Homo sapiens: one gene and its partner. The protein of the gene in region 1 interacts with the protein of each later gene in a pairwise test. Each region holds a gene or a part of one and is shown on either strand. Other genes may lie near its edges.

Evidence for each region.
Region 2: the proteins of NUP205 (region 1) and HOXC10 interact in a two-hybrid assay, tested with the Homo sapiens proteins (one large-scale study listed by BioGRID and IntAct).

What each region holds. Positions count from the first base shown.
Region 1 is NC_000007.14:135,578,287-135,582,096, forward strand, and holds part of NUP205 (nuclear pore complex protein Nup205), read left to right. Parts: intron 1-464; coding exon 465-629; exon of another isoform or gene 630-640; intron 641-3,810. UniProt on the Homo sapiens protein: Plays a role in the nuclear pore complex (NPC) assembly and/or maintenance. May anchor NUP62 and other nucleoporins, but not NUP153 and TPR, to the NPC.
Region 2 is NC_000012.12:53,983,799-53,988,192, forward strand, and holds the start of HOXC10 (homeobox protein Hox-C10), read left to right. Parts: upstream 1-1,347; 5' UTR 1,348-1,461; coding exon 1,462-2,212; intron 2,213-4,394. UniProt on the Homo sapiens protein: Sequence-specific transcription factor which is part of a developmental regulatory system that provides cells with specific positional identities on the anterior-posterior axis.

The DNA of each region.
Region 1 (3,810 bases):
ATTTACTTAATTGCTTGTTTCTTTACCATTCATTTACATTTTCAAACTTTTTATTAAAACATTCTGAGACAGTGACTGTCATTTCAGTAATGTAATCTTTGATCTGTGTTTTCTGTGAAGTAAATAAAATTTTTGTGATCTTTAGATAGCATGATTTCTATTTTAGAATTTATGTGCAGAAAAAATGAGTGTCTAACTTTTTTCTTGTTTATTTGTAGTACACTTATAAAAATGACTGAAAATAGTGAAATTGAAATTTAGGATTATTGTCATTTTCTTTTTTTGTTTTTAGTATGTGTACAATCAACAGTAGTGTACCTTTTGGGATGTAGAAATTAATGTTAATTGGTCATTATTCTTCTGTGAGAATGCTCAGATTTTCTGACTTTTGGATATTATTCCTGTGTATCAGAAGTGAGAATTTATCTGGTGATCGGTAAAGTGGTCTATTTTTGTGTTTTCAGATATGATTCATCAACTTCCACTGTTGACAGAAAAACAGTACATTGCAACAATTCACTCTCGTCTTCAGGACTCACAGCTTTGGAAACTGCCTGGGCTCCAAGCCACTGTTAGACTTGCCTGGGCGCTGGCATTGAGGGGAATATCCCAGCTACCTGATGTGACAGGTGAATTGATTGTAGGTAATTTTGTTATGAGAAACAGCATGTTAGCACTTAATGACATTTTTGGAAGGAGTATTATCTTTGACATACATAAGCATAAGCATAGGAAGATATCCAGAGTTGTATTAAATGAAACCTTTAGTGTAGTAGTGAAATACAGACTTTTTTCTCCTTGTCTCTCAAAAATATCATATGAAATACTATTTCCCATTCTTGGAGCCACTGACAATGCTCTTTTACCTTCAGGGTATGAGTTTAAAATTTGGAATGACAGTGTCACATTAATTTTTTTTTTTTTTGAGATGGAGTTTTGCTCTTGTTGCCCAGGCTGGAGTGCAATGGCACAGTCTCGGCTCACTGCAACCTCTGCCCCCCGGGTTCAAGCGATTCTCCTGCCTCAGCCTCCCAAGTAGCTGGGATTACAGGCATGCGCCACCACACCTGGCTAATTGTGTATTTTTAGTAGAAATGGGGTTTCTCCATGTTGGTCAGGCTGGTCTTGAACTCCCGACCTCAGGTGATCCGACTGCCTTGGCCTCCCAAAGTGCTGGGATTGCAACACGTGAGCCACCCCGTCCGGCCTTAAATGTTTTTTAAAATTAAAATATACTATTCCTTTTATTTTTATATATTTTACTTCTTGATTTGTTCACAAACTAGTTTTTCACATTGTGTCAAATTAAAAACAGTTATTTTTCCATACAGTGTATTAAAAAGGAGATATTTGGATCAGTCAAGAACAGATGTGGAATCCCGACTTTTCTTTTTTGTGGCCCAGGCTGGAGTGCAGTGGCTCGATCCCGGCTCACTGCAACCTCCACCTACTGGGTTCAAGTGATTCTCCTGCCTCAGCTTCTTAAGTAATTGGACTACAGGCACACGCCACCACACCCGGCTAATCTTTTGTATTTTTAGTAGAAACAGGGTTTCACCATGTTGGCTGGGCTGGTCTCGAACTCCTGAGCTCAGGTGATCCACTTGCTTTGGCCTCCCAGAGTGTTGGGTTTACAGGTGTGAGCCACCGCGCCTGACCAGAATACTGACTTTTAACAACCTGTTAACTCACTGTAGCATATATTATTCTGCTATTTACATTTACATTATTTAATTGTCATATTAGTAGGGGTTTATTCTAACAGAATGAGAACCATACATGGAACACGAAGCCCAAAGAATTGTCTTTTTATGGTAAATCTAGAAAGGCTTTATTCAAGTTTACAATTTATGTCAGTTTTCTAATCCTAAAGTATCAACAGATTCTAGTATCTTATCAATCGTGTAATTCCAGAACATTTTGTTTTCACTAGTGTCATGCTGTTCCCAAGGTGTTTGCAGAAAGCTTTTTTTGTGTTAGGAGTCTTTCTTTGGCCAGTTAATTTCTATCTGTCTGTCATCTATATATCTAAATGCTGATAGCGAATTAGACTTTTACATTCCCGTACAAATTCTGTTTCTCACCTGTACGTACCCTCATCATTTATAAGTCTTATTTCACTACTTTTCTGACATAAAGTTACCCTTTAACCTTTGAAGTGGCTATGTGATAGTTAATATCTTCTTTTTTTATTTTGGAGATGGAGTCTCGTTCTGTTGCCCAGACTGGAATGCAGTGGCATGATCTCAGGTCACTGCAACCTCTGCCTCCTGGGTTCAAGCAATTCTGCCTCAGCCTCCGGAGTACCTGGGACTATAGTCGCACGCCGCCACACCCAGCTAAGTTTTTGTATTTTAGTAGAGACAGGGTTTCACCGGGTTGCCTAGGCTGGTCTCGAACTCCGGAGCTCAGGCAATCTGCCTGCCTTGGCCTCCCAAAGTGCTGGGATTACAGGCGCGAGCCACCATGCCCAGGTGTGATAGTTAATATATTAACTATATAATATAGTTATACATAGATAGTTATTATAATATTATGTAATATGGTCACAATCTTATGCTATAATTGCCCATACCACTGCACTAGTTTTGAAAGGTTTAATAGAATATGCTATAGTTTGCTGTAGAATAATAGTAAAAATAGGTTAGGAATCACAGCCCTAGTTTCAAGTCCCAGATCTTTGGCTACTTAATCTCTTTGATTTTATATGCTCATATCCTTTTATAAGCTTTAATAGTTAGGGGTATTATAATTAGAATTTTTAAACTATAAAAATTTTTCTGTTAATTTGCATTTTAAAAATTGTTAGAAAAAATGACTAGCTTGTGTTATTTTGCAGAAATGGTCACTTCTTGAAATAATCCAGACAAGTTTTAACGAAGATCTCCAATTTGAAAAATTGGTTTCTGTTCTCTTCATAGACTTCTGAAACTTTTATCAAATGTTTTTATTATATTATTCTATAAAAGGCATGAAGCCAGGTGCAGTGCCTCATGCCTATAATCCCAGCATTTTGGGAGGCCAAGGTGGGAGGATTGCTTGAGCCCAGGAGTTCATGACAAACCTGGGCAATGTAGTGATACCTCATCTCTTCAAAAAATTAAAAATTAGCCCAGTGTGGTGACATGCCCTTGGCTGTAGTCCCAGCTACGCAGGAGGCTGAGGCAGGAGGATCACTTGAGCCCAGGAGAGAGGCTGTAGTGAGCTGAAATTGCTCCACTGCACTCCAGCCTGGGTGACAGAGTGAGATCACATCTCAAAAAAAATTAAAAAAACAAGCATCGGCCGGGTGTGGTGACTCACGCCTGTAATCCCAGCACTTTGGGAGGATGAGGCAGGTGGATCGCTTGAGGTCAGGAGTTCAAGACCAGACTGGCGAACGTGGTAAAAGCCCATCTCCACTAAAAACACAAAAAATTAGCCAAGCATGGTGGCGCGTGCCTGTAATCCCAGCTGCTTGGGAGACTGAGGCAGGAGAATTGCTTGAACCTAGTGGGCAGAGGTTGCAGTGAGCTGAGATCATGCCACTGCACTTTAGCCTGGGTGACAGAGTGAAACTCTGTTTCCAAAAAAAAAAAATCAACAAAAAAACCAAGCATTTTTGTAATTTCACTAAGCTTTACAGAATTTTAGCATACTGTTTTTAGGCATTGAAACTCAATTTATATTAAGACAATGATGCCTTATTGCCTAAATGGTCTTCAAGAAGTAATTTTTGGCTGGGCATAGTGGCTCATGCCTGTAATGTCAGTGCTTTGGGAGGCTGAGGTAGTCAGATCACTTGATGTCAGGAGTTCAAGACCAGCCTGG
Region 2 (4,394 bases), on another chromosome or scaffold:
CTAGGCTCTGTCCAAGGAAAAATGTGGGGCGACAGGAAAGACAAGTTGTTCTCCAGATTCCGTTTCCTGAGGAAGGGGTGGAGAGTTTAGTTCGCTTTGGAAGAAGGCGATGGAGAAACGGAAATAACTGTTTGAAACATACGGTTCCCCTTATTTCTTCCTTTTATTTAAAAACAACCACAAAAATAGACTGGTCTGTCTTCTTTCAAACATGCTCCCAGCCCGTGCGCTCTGTAAAGGACGCTTCTCTGGGTCGGGTTTTGTTGCGTCTTGTGTGCTGGTTTCCCGTGTGATACGTGACTCCTCCAAACTGACCGAGGCTCCGCAGGTTCCCTCTTTCTTTCCCGGAATATTCCCTGTTTTAGCGGGGGCAAGGTCAAGCGGAAAGCGAGGACCGCCAGGGCCTGAAGTAAAGCAGCAGAACCGGCTCCAAGGCCAAAGCCTTGTGGGCCCCTGAGATGGTGACCCAGGAGCCGCCCACCCTGCCAGGCCCAGGCCACAGCTCTCGGGTCGGGGATCGGGTGCCTCTGGTCTCTGGCTTCCTCTTTCCCCTACCCCGCGTCCATTCGGAACCTCCTTTTCCGAGCAGCCATGAAGTGACCGTGACCCCCTCCCTGGCCCACCCTAGAGGCTGGAGATTCCCAGTCAACCCCCACAGGAAACTTGCAACTCCAGCGCCGCGGCCCCCAAGCTTCCAGCCCCGAGGGCCAAGCCCGGGGAAAAGAGGAGGCGGGAGAGCAGAAACTTTAGTCCTGTTTGGTATTCCTTAACTTTTTTTCCCCTTTCTCTGCTCATCAGATCCCCCCAAACCCCCCCCCCCACAAACCTCACCCCACTCCCATCCCCAAGGTAAGAAGTGGGAGTCGGGTCCGGGGATATGGAAAGGGGAGATGAAGAGTGGGGAGAAGTACCTGATTCGTGTCTCGACCTTTTAATTTGAATTTGACTGTTTTGAGCCCCGGGTTGCCTCGCTCTCTCCCTCTCTCCCGCATTTCCCCCCTCTCCGCCCCCTTCTCCCCAGGAGTTACAGGCTGGTTACTGGATAAACAAACCCCACTCTTCCTAGAACCCCCACCCCCACCCCCACCCCCCTCCACCCCTCTACCTCCCCTGCCGCCCGGGGGGCGCTTCCTTTGTTCGCGGGGAAGGGCTCCGGTGCCCCTACCCCGAGGCAGCTGCTAGATGGCGCTGTTACTCCACTCTGCGCGCTCCGCCTGCCGACAACTTGACCCCGCTGACGTCACGGCCGTCTGAATCATCAAGGCCATTTTCAAATCCCATTGGTCTAGCCGTCACATGGTGAGAACCGAATGCGCGGATAATTACGGAGCTGATATTTCCCCCCCTCCCCTTCTTTTTCCTCCCTCCCCTCCAACCGCGCCCCCCCTCCCGGATGGGGAAAAAAAAAGATGTCAGCTCCTCCGCTGTAGTATTGCTCCTTAAAAACCCCTCTCTCTGAAAATGACATGCCCTCGCAATGTAACTCCGAACTCGTACGCGGAGCCCTTGGCTGCGCCCGGCGGAGGAGAGCGCTATAGCCGGAGCGCAGGCATGTATATGCAGTCTGGGAGTGACTTCAATTGCGGGGTGATGAGGGGCTGCGGGCTCGCGCCCTCGCTCTCCAAGAGGGACGAGGGCAGCAGCCCCAGCCTCGCCCTCAACACCTATCCGTCCTACCTCTCGCAGCTGGACTCCTGGGGCGACCCCAAAGCCGCCTATCGCCTGGAACAACCTGTTGGCAGGCCGCTGTCCTCCTGCTCCTACCCACCTAGTGTCAAGGAGGAGAATGTCTGCTGCATGTACAGCGCAGAGAAGCGGGCGAAAAGTGGCCCCGAGGCAGCTCTCTACTCCCACCCCTTGCCGGAGTCCTGCCTTGGGGAGCACGAGGTACCCGTGCCCAGCTACTACCGCGCCAGCCCGAGCTACTCCGCGCTGGACAAGACGCCCCACTGTTCTGGGGCCAACGACTTCGAAGCCCCTTTCGAGCAGCGGGCCAGTCTCAACCCGCGCGCCGAACATCTGGAATCGCCTCAGCTGGGGGGCAAAGTGAGTTTCCCTGAGACCCCCAAGTCCGACAGCCAGACCCCCAGCCCCAATGAAATCAAGACGGAGCAGAGCCTGGCGGGCCCTAAAGGGAGCCCCTCGGAGAGCGAAAAGGAGAGGGCCAAAGCTGCCGACTCCAGCCCAGACACCTCGGATAACGAAGCGAAAGGTAAGGCCGCCTGGGCCGCGGGCGCCACTGGGACGTTCCGGCACTTGGTCTTCGCGGCCGGGGAGGGGGGCAGGGGAGAGGGTTGGGCCCAGGAGGCCCCAGACCATTTCGGGAATGCGACCCTGGCTTTCGACTAGCGTCCGCTGAGCTCCAGGCTGGTGGCGCGTCACTTAGCTGGGGAAGGTAAGCGGCGACGTGGAGGTGTCGGCCCTGCCCCGGCCATGGGTGCTAAGGCGGGGGCGGTGCGCACCGCGGGCCGCCTGCAGGCGCAGTGTGCTGCACCGGACGGGTGGCTGCTCCCAGGCGCGTGCTGGCTGTGGTTTGCTTTCTCAATGCTGGTGTCCTGGGGAGCTGACGTCCCCCAGCTCAGGTCAGGGGCTTGCAAAAAGCCTAAAATGGCGATCTTGGGCCAGGGACTAGGGAAGGCTGGGGAGATGGGGGGAGTTCTCTTTACTGCGTTTTCCCAGTTGAAAATTGTTTCCTGCGAAACGCGATTTGTTGTTTGTGGGTCTGATTTGTGCGTGCGGCTTGGGCTCCTGCGGCTTTTGGCTCGGCCGGGGGCCTTGGGCAGCGAGGCTGGAGCCGGAAGAGGTGGAGGTGAAGGGCTGCCCGCCACGTCCCTCCCTCCTCCAGATGCCTGGCTTGGATGGCGTTGGAACAGGGCATTTGGAATGTTGTAAGTTTTCTGTTTCCTCTTTTAATTTTTTCTTTTCCATTTTTTTCTAGTTAAATTATCTTTTTTCATTGGTTTCCAAAAGCAGCTTACAAATGAGTGGTTGGGAAATTTCTGTGTGCGTGGCAAGAGGTTTTCTCCTGAAAGGGAATGTGGCTTTGGTTGGATTTCACTGTAATTTTGGTTGAGAGAAAGCCCAGCCAGAGTTCAAGCTCAGGGTTCAAGATTCATTTCTGCTGTAGGAGCTGGGGGCCTTCGGGATCTTTCTCTGATACTTGGGGAAAGAATGTGGAGGAAACGGGAGCAGGGGAGGAAAAGCTGAGGGGAACGACTTTTCCTGAAAAGTTGTAGCAAGAGCCTCAGAAAAAGGCCCAACCAACGGGGAAGAATAAACCTGCTCCCCACAACACCGGCTACTGGTGACAGTATATAAGGGGCTCATTGGGTGTAGAGGAAGATGAAATACTGAGAGCGGAGCAGGCTGGGGGCGGCCTGGATCTCCTGGTGCTTTGTATATGGATGCGACGCACACGCATGCCTACGGGCGACCTGTGCCACACTCACGCACATCCATATTGCATGATCCTTGCACACTCACGCATGCCCGCTCACACATGCACAGGCACTCTTTTGGCGGGCAAGGGCAGAGCCTCATCCCCTTGGGTCTGCAAAGGTGGTCTTGGTAAATCATCCCCATAGAGACACTGACTGGAAGATGAGCGCTGGTGTGTTCATGAGGATAAGGGGGAGAGTGAGGCGCCTACAGCCTCAAAGCCTTTCGTTTGGCACGTGTGCAGTGTGAAGGTTTAATCTTATACCCTCTCTACAGACCCTGAGCTTGGTTAGGGAGCAGATTTGGGGCAGGAAAACCTGCATTCTAGCCCCCACCAAAAGCAAAGTCAAGGTTAACAAGTTCACCTCTTAACTCGACCTGCACCCATTCCCATAGGCTCTCCCTTTCCTCTAGCTGTCCCCACAGCAACCTAATCCCTCCCACCCCAAGGAATCCCTCTTACCCTGTACCCTCTCTGTGCCCTTCTTTCCTCTCCTCCTGTTTTGATGTCTCCACCAGGCCAGAGGCAAGAGAGCTTTTGATTAAACTTCCCCATTTATAATTTGTCTTGTCCCCCCACCCCACCAAACCTAACAACTCCAGTAAGAAAATAAACAGGACGTAGTTAGATGTGGAGAGCTTGTAAACAATCTGGCAAGAAGCTGCAGGTGCAGAGACAGGAGAGAAAATTCGGGACATTCAGATTTTTTTAGACTGCAACCTCAAGTTTGCCTTTTTTGTGTGTTTTCTGGTTCCTCTTAGGCCCCCGCCTCACCCCGCCCCCAACAAGATAAGATCCAGGAACCTGGCAGCCTCATTGGAATAGGGAGGAGAGAGAGCTCAGAGCCATCAGCAGAGTCCTTTGCTGGGTGTCCTCTCAGGTCTTTGGACTCTGTTTTTTGCCCTTAAAAAGATGGCCAGGTTCCCTTCTGCTACTTGAGAAGCAAGGCTGGTCC